Regions from separate parts of the Homo sapiens genome. Here region 2 is linked to region 1. Evidence: fine-mapped expression QTL. A gene starts in region 1. The other region holds a variant in brackets. All regions are shown on one strand. Distances are between the middles of the regions.

Evidence for each region.
Region 2: its variant is fine-mapped to the expression of LINC02520 in hypothalamus (GTEx, PIP 0.92).

Annotation. Positions count from the first base shown.
Region 1 is chr6:37,504,605-37,509,982 of GRCh38, reverse strand. LINC02520 (long intergenic non-protein coding RNA 2520) reads right to left here and starts at 2,635. Exons shown (of 4, transcript NR_126057.1): 1 at 2,279-2,635.
Region 2 is chr6:37,492,755-37,498,132 of GRCh38, reverse strand. All of the region lies in intron 1 of CCDC167 (coiled-coil domain containing 167), which reads left to right. Among named protein-coding and RNA genes, the nearest start is that of CCDC167, 4.4 kb to the left of the region's middle. The variant T/C (reference allele first, on the strand shown) is at 3,340.

The sequences.
Region 1 (5,378 bases):
AATGTTTTTGAACTTTAAGTGAATGGGATCCTCTGGTTTACATTCCTCTGCAACTTGTCTTTTCGTGTAACATTATGTTTGTGAGATTTATCCATGTTGATATGCGTAGATCTAGATCAGAGCTCGGTAAAGTTTTCTGGAAAGGGACAGATTTTTCATATTTTAAGCTTTGTGGGCCCAACAGTCTGTTGCAGCTGCTCAACTCTGCCATTACAGTGCGAAAGCAGATACAGACAATATGTAAATGAATGAATGTGGCCACATTCCAAAACAACCTCGTTTACAAAAACAGGCAGCAAGCTGGATTTGGTCCATGGGCCATAGTTTGCCGATCTAGGCCATTTGTTTTCATTGCTGTGTAATATTTCATTGTATGACTACACCACAGTTTATTGATCCATTCTTCTATTCATGGTTTGGTTGAATTATCACTCCCAATTCTTTACTCCAGGACTATATAGGACTATACACTCAAACCCTTTGATGTACAGAGTAGATGGAGAATATATCCCCATCCCATTGACTTGGGGTTTGGCCTAATGGAATTTAACCGGGCAAATGCTAAAGAATGTGATGCAAAAGGAGAGTTTTTTTGTTGTTCTTGTTGTTTTGAGACGGAGTCTCACTCGGCTCACTGCAACCTCCGCCTCCCGGGTTTAAGCAATTCTCCTGCCTCAGACTCCTGGGTAGCTGGGACTACAGAGGTGTGCCACCACACCTGGCTAATTTTTGTATTTTTAGTAGAGAAGGGGTTTCACGGTGTTGTCCAGGCTGGTCTTGAACTCCTGACCTCGTAATCTGCCTGCTTCAGCCTCCCAAAGTGCTGGGATTACAGGCGTGAGCCACTGCGCCTGGCCACAAATGGAGGTTTTTAATGTGCTTTTATGGTTTAGTTTGGCATCTTGCGGTCCTGCCATTTGCCATAGAAGAGCATGTTCCCAGTAAGCTGTTGTCTCTTCAGCCTGAGTCCCCAAATGAGAGCTACTTGTAGCCAATGTGAACGTGAGTTCACCCCAGCTCACCTGCACTCCTGTGTGCAAGAAATAAATGTTTGTCATTATAAGCCAATGATATTCTTAGGATTGTTTGTTACACAGCTTTATTGCAGCAGCAGCTAATGAATACAATGGACATTTACGTTTTTGATTCTTCGCTGTTGCAACAAAGTTCACGCTCATATACCTCAACTGGTGCACAAATGCATCTTCAACTTTGCTAGTTAATGCTGATTTGCTTTCCAGACTTTTGTACCCACTTGGTTTTGTCAGGTGTCTGCTGATCTGTGGGTGTAAAATTCCATTGCCCATCTAACTCTTACTCATCTTTCTCTTCCTCTGGGCCTCCTTCCCTAATGCCCCCATCTGAACTGGGTCCATATACTCATTGCATCCATAGCTCCTTACACTTGCCTCTCTCACAGTCCTGGTATTGTATTTATCTGTTAATCTGTCACCATACAGACAGCCCCTGTCCCCCAGCCCAGGCACTTAGCAAATAATTGTTGAATGAAAGTTTCATGAGAAACTTCAATCAAGCTGGTCAGCTCCTGTCCTAGGGAATGTATACGCTGAGACAACTACCTTATCACAGGTACAGCCTTCATATCAAGGTGTGTCAAAGGACAGAGACTGATTGCTTTTCATGTGGTTATCACACTTGGGCTTTGAATGTGACTTGTTTTTTGCTGAAAATGTAATCATTCCAGGCTGCAATTACAGTAGCTAGAGAGATGTGAGTGAAAGCTAAACACTAAGGGTCTAAGAAGGTTTTGTGGGCAAATGCCATCTTTAAAAAGCAGGTTACTCACATAATAAATAGCTTGCATTGCTGCACACTGCTCTAAGCACTTTACACATACAAGATAAATATCAGAGGAGGAAACTGAGAAAAGCAACCTGCCCTGGGTGCGCAGCTGGTGAAGGCCTCACTGTAGCCACCATCCCCCACCCCAAGGTAATTGCGTTAGAGAACAAAGAACTTGACACCTGCCAGAACTACCCCCACCCCCACCACCACCTACCCCCAGCCCCAGCACCACCTACCCCGACCCCCACCCACCACCACCACCTACCCCCACCACCACCACCTACCCTCACCCACCACCACCTACCCCCACCACCACCACCTACCCCCAACCCCCAACACCACCTACCCACACCCCTACCCCCACCCCCCACCACCTACCCCTACCCCCACCCCCACCACCACCTACCCCCACCCCACCACCACCTACCCCCATCCCCATCACCATCTACCCCCACCCCCCACCACCACCTACCTCCAACCTTTGGATGGCATGAGTCTGGTGCATCTAAGGTCACATTTAAAGAACAGAGTTCTGAAAAATCCATGGGAAGACGTCTTTGCTGCCAGTCAGCATGATAGAAAAACATGGGTCTTGGAGCCGGGAGGCAGGTTTTAATCCAAACTTGGCCACAATCTTAATTTAGATTATTTTGGTTGTAAGGAAAAGAAATCAATAACTTTAATAACTTCAAAACTCCCAAAATGAAGCGGAGAGATGTGTTGTAAGGAATGGGTGGTGCTCTCGAAGGACAATCAAGGGTTGGAACCAAGAATTGGACCATTGATATAACCATGCTGTCATTCTGTCCCCTTCCTCCCTGGGCTAACTATGATCAGCATCTCATCCTAGGGTCAGATTCCTGGGAGTTAAAATCTGATTGGCCCAGCTTTGGTCAGGTGTGTTCCTCTGATCGAATCAGCTGTGACTGGGTAGGTGGGATCACACAAACCTCAGGAAAGGGGGCCTATTGTGAGCTAGGCAGATATTCTCTAGAAGGTGCCTAACGCAGTTACTAATTCACAGTAGACCTTAGGGAAGATACCTTCCTTCCCAGACTCGCAGTTCTCATCTGTAAATGAGAGATTTGATCTGTGTCTGGCTCATCATTACATCTACTATGCCTGTTTAATAAAGGCTGAGTGGACTACAGTGATCCCTATATTAGCTTCTGGTTCTGACCGTCTGTCTTTTAGAATTCTCATATGTAAAGTGTGCGGGTACAAGGAGCTGGCAGCGAGGGAGAAGACGGGGAGAAGGAGGGTGTGCTGACACTGGCCAGGGGTGCCTGGGGACTTCAGCTTAAGCAGTCTTTTCTCTGGACATCTTTCCAGAGCCAATCTTCTGTCCCCACCAAGCAGCATTCTGGCCAGAATCTGACTTCTCTAATAAACACTGTCCCTGGAGGGACAGTGCCCTTTATAAGCTATTAAATTGGCCTTCTGACAGTTGCCAACACAATGCCATTTGAGAAGCAAAGTCCAAAGTGGGGGGACTCCGGATTTGATTCTGGTGTCCAGAATCCAGACTCTTCCACTTATTACGTGACCTAGTGGGTCACGGCCCTCTAAGCATCACAGTCTTCGCTGCCCAGACAGATATGAGAATCTGTGTTCTGCCTTATTCATAGAACTGTTTGAGGGATATTGTGTATAAAATTATCCATAATAATTGAACTATATTTGTGGTGTGCTAACTAGATGCCAGGCATAGCGTCATATGCTGAAAAGGGTTATTATGTATAATCCTCACAAGAGCCTTATGAAGTAGCTGCTACTATGATCTCTGTTTCACAGATGAAGAAACTGAGGCTCAGAGGTTAAATAACTTGCCCAAGGTCACACAGTTGATGAAGAGCAGAGTCAGATCCACGCTCTGAACTAGGTTCTAGTACTTTTGTTTGTGGTCCAGTTGTAGATAGACACATTATTATTATTACTTCCCAGGGCCTAAGACCTCTCGGATAAGCTGAACATTGAGACCCACAGAGGTGGGAAACCAAAACTTGGACACCAGAGAAGCAAACTTCTGGGTTTATTCCTTCAGTCTAAAAACTACATGAATCAAAAAATCTGTGGGCTGTAAATGAAGTAACTCAGATCAAATTAGCTCACTCAAAAGAGGGAATTTGTTGGCCTCCACTCTCCGAGGGGCAAAAGTGAGGCTAGGGCACCTGGAATTCAAGTTTCAAACAAGCACCCCCAGGGCAGTCTTCCTCATTGTCTCTCATTGCTGCTGCCCTGTGCTGGCTGCCTGCCCTCTTTCATACTCCATGAGCTTCTTCTCAGGAAGAGAACACTGTTGCCAGCAGTTCCAGGATCACACGTCAGCTGCTCTGCAACCAAAGCTAAGGTGGGATTTCCTTTCCCAGCTACAGGTGAAACAAATCTCAGGAAAGGATTCTTATTGGCCTAGCTCAGATCATGAGTCCTCCCTTCTGAACTAATCACTATGGCTAGGGACATGTGGTTCTATGACTGGCTGCCCCGCTTAGATCATATGCCACCCATGTGAACAGTGGGAGTGGATCTGTTATAAGAAGGTGGGGTGGTTGGGGGAGATGGCAACACCGACGTGAACTCTGGGGGACTCTCTGAAGCCTGGGTCACCTCAATTTGTATCCTTTCCAACTGGCAAGAGCAACCTTGGTTTTCTCCTTCCTCAATCTATATCTACTAAGAAGTCACCTAATAGGCTGTTAGTTTCTTACTCTCGTTTTCTTCAGAAAGGCTCATATGGTCTTTTATACAGAGGGAGGGGGTGAGTATCCTCTTCTGCAAACTTTTCCATGTCTGGAAAATTGGGGCAATGGAGCCTGCCTTACTTTCCTCACAGAGGTATGTGAGGACCCACAGAGTTAATGGATACAAACACTGCTGTAGAAAGAACAAAGTGCCATATTTACAAACACAGGATCTATTTATTGATTTATTTATGCTCCTTTGTGTTTCAAAAAAGGATTTGAGGTAGCTTAGCAAAATGCACACAATATAGTGGGATAAAAATAGTAAGGGGATAGAGCGGAGGGAAAACACGGGTAGAAAAATCAAATAAAGCCAGGGAAAATTCTTGTACCTGGAAACTTATGCTCAAAGTCCCTGAACAAGTTTGGTTCTGAGCTTTCTCATGAACAAAGTGGGAAACATGATCAGTTACAAAAGATACAGTAGTCATAGGATAAGAGAATATCAGCATGCCAGGAAAGGCCACAGAGCTTAGCTCAGCACCAATGTCTGGTAGAAATTTCTTCTCATCAAGAGGATACCGCAGGGTGGGCCAGACTCGATGGTTCATGCCTGTAATCCCAGTACTTTGGGAGACCGAGGCAGGCAGATCATCTGAGGTCTGGAGTTCGAGACCGGCCTGGCCAACATGGTGAAACCCCGTCTCTACTAAAAATACAAAAATTAGCCAGGCGTGGTGGTGGGTGCCTGTAATCCCAGCTACTCGAGAGGCTGAAGCAGGAGAATCACTGGAACCCAGGAGGCGGAGGTTGCAGTAAGCTGAGATTGCACCAATGCACTCCAGCCTGGGTGACAGAGTGAGACAGAAAAAAAAAAAAAAAAAAAAAAGA
Region 2 (5,378 bases), 12 kb after region 1:
CATTTGCGAATTTCCCTAATGGCTAAAATGTATTTGTAACCCCAAAATCAGTACTCACAGTGCTTTTGTGGCAAATGCAAAGCAGTGGGAAAAAAATTGAGTCGCTCGCAGTCCATGTTCTCAGCTAAAGTTGAACAGGTGATGATGCCCTGCCTTGTTTCAGCTGTCCTACTGTAAACAAGGGTCCTTATTGTGTTCTATTTAGTGCCCTGTTTTTGTTTTGTTTTGTTTTTTTCATTCTCATGTTTTTTATTGGTATTTCGCTGTGTTTTGCTTTTGAGACAGAATCTCACTCTCGCCCAGGCTGGAGTGTAGTGGTGCACTCTTGGCTCTGCAACCTCCACCTCCCATTCAAGTGTTCACCCCCACCTTCCCCCGACACAGCCTCTCTAGTAGCCAGGATTAGACCACCACCACATCCGGCTAATTTTTGTATTTTTGGTAAAGACGGGGGTCTTGCCATGTCGGCCAGGCTGGTCTCGAACTCCTGACCTTAGGTGATCTGCCCACCTCGGCCTCCCAAAGTGCTGGGATTAGAGGTGTGAGCCACTGCCTGATTTTGCTGTTTAAAGTGCCCCCGATCCCCGACCCCCGACCCCAAGCATAGGGCTGAAGTGCTGTCTGGCATTCCTAAATCCAAGAAGGCTGTGATGTGTTGTAGAAGAAAACAGGTTTTTTAGATAAACTGTTCAGGCATGATATAACTCATGATGTAACAGCACGTATAGTGCTGTTGGTTGTGAGTCCAGTGTTAATGAATCAACAATATATATTGAATAAGGTCACTTTAAACAGAATCACACATGAAACAAGGTTGCAAAAATGTTGTGTCCATAGGCTTGCAGGAACCTCACCTGGTTTGGTATTTGCTAATTCAATATTAGAGGCAACTTTATAGGACATAGCTACCAGGAACAACAAGAACCAACTGTATTCAGGCTAAGGTAGGAGTATGTAAATGAAGGAATATGTAAATAAGTGGGTGTGTCAGTGTTCCACTAAAGCTTTATCTGCAAGAACAGTCCTTAGACCATTTGGCCACAGGGCTTAGTTGCCAACTCCTGGTCTAGAGTACCAGGTCTATGGTGGTTCTGCCAGATTCCCTTCCTCTGTGGCTTCACCATCTCTTGAGATCTTGTCACCTTATCAGTGGAACCGGGGCATACCCCACTGATGTGTCCACCGGCAGAGAAAGAGGAGAATGGAGGAAGCACACCCACTGTCCTGGGCCCAAACTGTCCACTTTCCATTGGCAAGAACTAAAACCCCACCTGACTGCAAGGGATCAGGGAAATGCGTTCACCAGTCAGGAGGCCACATAGCCAGCTACTGTTTGCTTACTATGGAGGAAGAGACCAGTGTGTTTTCACAGACAGCCTGTAGTCTCACTACAGATGGCACCTCACCTCACAGTGTGGTTGTGAGGATTAAATGAGACATTGCGTTAAGTGCCCAGCACGTGCCTGGCACCGGATTGGTAATCAATACATGGTAGCTCCAGCCTTTGTATTTCTTTTGCATCCTTCCACCATGGCTAAGTCAAACTCGTTCTTGGGCATTCGTTCACTCATCTATAACATGAAGGACTTGAATTTCACCAGGGGTTACAAACTCCTTGACTATGGCCCAAATACAGATCACAGATGTCTTCTGTTTGGCTGACAGACTTTTAAGTTTTTATTTTATTTTATTTTATTTTTAGACAGGGTCTTGCTCTGTTGCCCAGGCTGTAGTGCAGCGGCATGATCTCAGCTCACTGCAGCCTCCAGCCTCCCGGGTTCAAGCAATTCTCGTGCCTTAGCCTCCCGAGAAGCTGAGACTACAGGCGTGCACCACCATGCCCAGCTAAGTTTTGTATTTTTAGTAGAGACGGGGTTTCACCATGTTGGCCAGCTGGTCTTGAACTCCTGACCTCAAGTGATCCGCCCGCCTCGGCCTCCCAAAGTGCTGGGATTACAGGCGTGAGCCACCACACTCGGCCGGATTTTTACGTTTTTAAACTTGGTGGGGCATGTATTCTCCAAGTGCCTTATACTGGGGCAGATTCCATTGTTTTACCCTCTCCATACCACGGTAGATGTTTATATTTGCTATCTTGGTCCCTAAGTTTACTTTTTGCTTGGATATTCGAAGATTTGACATCTGTAACCGTGTGCCTTGGAAAAAGCCTGACATCTGGCTGGCTGTCTCCCCACCTTGCTTCTCAGTTGCCCCCAGCGGGTCTGAGTATTGAATGTGCACTGATGCTCAGTAGCAGTAGATATTGTCCTCTTATTAAAAGTTGTGTGCTCAGAGCCAATGAAGTGGTGATTTAATCAAAAATGTTTGTTAATCTGACGAGTGCAATAAAACCCCCACAAGTGAGTGATCTCAGCACCTGCAAACAGTCTCCACTTGTAATGAAGCAATTACCAAGCAGGCAGCACTCACCCTTAGGGCTGGCTTGGGCCAGCTGTATAAGCAGCCACCTCTTAGGACAACCAGGGCACCCTCTAGCCTCCCCCTCAAAGTGGTTCCTTTTGAGGTCTTTTTATCCAATTCATTTGCCACCATATGAGATCTCAGAGTTGGAAAAAACTGTGAGTTTTAGCTTCTGAGATTTCATTCTTAATAAGAAAAGAAAATTATAGTTCAAATGAGAAATCACCCACCCAGTACTGATTTTAATGTTGTGTGGGAGGAAGGAAAGGTTGAATTTCAGTCTAAACTGATAGGAGAATTTTGACTGATGTAAAACCTGTTTGTGTTTTCGGATCTCTGATGGTAATGAGCTGTTCCTTTGTCATTGCACTTTTCTTTTGTAGCTGGACTGTTCAAACTGGTGTCTTTAGATGTTTCAGTGACCAGTTGGTCTTGAGTTAACAGATGTGTGGTGTCTTAGCCGGTATCCTAAAGTGGATAACTTGGTTGGATCTGACCCCTAGTACAGAAAGTTTATCAGTTTGGAAAGCTTTTGGCTACAAGTTATAGAAAACTGACCTCAATGATTTAAGCAAATGGGAGTAGACTTTTCCCCTTATAGAAATTTGTAGGGGCCAGGTGCAGTGGCTCACGCCTGTAATCCCAGTATTTTGGGAGGCTGAGGCAGGTGCATCATTTGAGGTCAGGAGTTCGAGACCAGCCTGACCAACATGGTGAAACACCATCTCTACTAAAAATACAAAAATTAGCCAGGAGTGGTGGTACACGCCTGTAATCCCAGCTACTCGGGAGGCTGAGGCAGGAGAATTGCTTGAACCCAGGAGGTGGAGGTTGCAGTGAGCCAAGATCGTGCCACTGCACTCCAGTCTGGGCAACAGAGACCCCGTCTCAAAAAAAAAAAAAAAATTTGTAGGTAGG[T/C]GGCTACTGGCATTGGTTCAAAAGCTTAGCTATGTCAGAGTTGGTATTTCTGCATTCTCTTCACTGTTTCCTCATGGTCACAATATAGCTGCCACAGCTCCAGTCTAATATTCAACTTTAACTCAGGAAGGAGGAGGAAGGAACAACACTGTCCCTTTTATCAACAAAGCATAAGCTTCCCCAGGAGTCTCCTAGCTGACTTCTGGAACGTCTCATTGGCCAGAACTGGGTCATGAGCAAGCCTAGCTGCAGTGAGGTTGGGAGAGCATCTGCTGAGCTTTTCCACCTTCTGGAGTAGAGGTGGGCAAAGGAGCAGGGGTGGGGAGTCGGTGTTGTGTTGGCCAGTTGACAGTATCTGCTGTAAGGAATAAATGCTAATGGGAGTCATTGAAAATTCACTGGAATCCTTACCAGAAAAAGAGGGCAGGATCGGCTGGGTGCGGTGGCTCACGCCTGTAATCCCAACACTTTGGGAGGCCCAGGCGGGCGGATCACCTGAGGTCACGAGTTCGAGACCAGCCTGACCAACGTGGAGAAACCCCATCTACTAAAAATACAAAATTAGCCAGGCATGGGGGTACATGCCTGTAATCCCAGCTACTCGGGAGGCTGAGGCAGGAGAATCGCTTGAACCTGGGAGGTGGAGGTTGCGGTGAGCCGAGATGGTGCCATCGCACTCTAGCCTGGGCAACAAGAGGGAAACTTCGTCTCAAAAAAAAAAAAAAAAAAAAAAAAAAGGCAGGATCACTGACCATGAGAAGTGGTAGGCTGAGGGGAGAGAATGGCCTAGGCCAGGAAGAGCACCGGAAGGCTTGACGCTTGTGGTTATTTGTATGGTGCCAGCCACTGCAGTAGCCTCCGTGGGGCAGGGCAGGCAGAAGCACCAAGTGTGGCTGAAGACGGTCTCCGCTCTGGAGCAGGCTGTGCACAGGGCTCAGGGGAACCTCCCACTTTCCTGAGACAAGGGCTAGGAGCAGGTGAGTGGACTGTCAATAAATATTTGCTGAACTGGCTCGATTGGCAGGAGGAGGCATTGAACCTTCCACCCTGACGTCTGGGCCCAGTTGAGTGGAGGTCACAGTAGAGCAGGCGGTTAGACGCCACCTTGCTGGGACCCTGAACCCCAAGCCAGGGGCTGGGAGAAAGGCTCGCAGCACGCAGAGGACTGTTCAGGGGCCGCTGACCATTAAATGAGCCTCACCTGCTGCCAGGCGAGAGCGACAGGTCGCCATTGGGCAGGTGATTTCTCGCGGCAGCCTACATCTGGCTCTGCGCCACTTGACGGGGGTCAGGAGACTAAAACCTCATTACCTAGCGCGGCTGGATGGCGGCGTGTGTGGAGTGGCTGTCTGCCAGCATCTTAATTAATGAATTCATAAGGCTCGGGGTGGATGCCAGTTCTTGAAAAGTGCTTTGAGCCTTTCAGCGATGAACAAGCTTTTGCTAGTTTATCAAAAAATAGATATCGGGGGGAAAGAAGACAAAACAAACCCCACACCACCTTCCGGCCCAGGGACAGCTGGCATCTTCGGGCGCGGACTGGCTCGGGCGCTAACTTGCAAGGCTGGCTCGGCCTCCGTCTCCTCGCGGGAAGGCGTCGGGACTCGCGTGGGCTGCAGCGGTTCCCTCGCCTTTCTGACCTGGCATGGGGGTGTGTCCAGGCGAGCGACAAGCCCCTAGGCTCTCCCTGCTCTTCCTGAAAATTGTTCATTGATTAAAAACTGGGAAGGTCTGCCGTCTTCAGCTGCACAACCTGCGAGAGAAATCCTTACAGGGCCTGTTGATGTGGGGAGCCATGGGCGGAGGTTTTTCTGCCCCCACAGAGCTCTGTGAGCCGCCTCCACAGAAAAACATCCCTTAAACGATGTGGGGATAATGGGCCCCTTGGGGTTTGAGGCTTGTCACCTGGAAAATTGAGGCCTAAGAACCCCGTGTGACTTGCTGTGGAGCCTGAAGGCTCCAAATGGAAAGCCCCTGCACTCTTGCCAGAGACCATCTGGGCAGGCACTTGGCTGCTTTACCCATTATAATAAATGTCC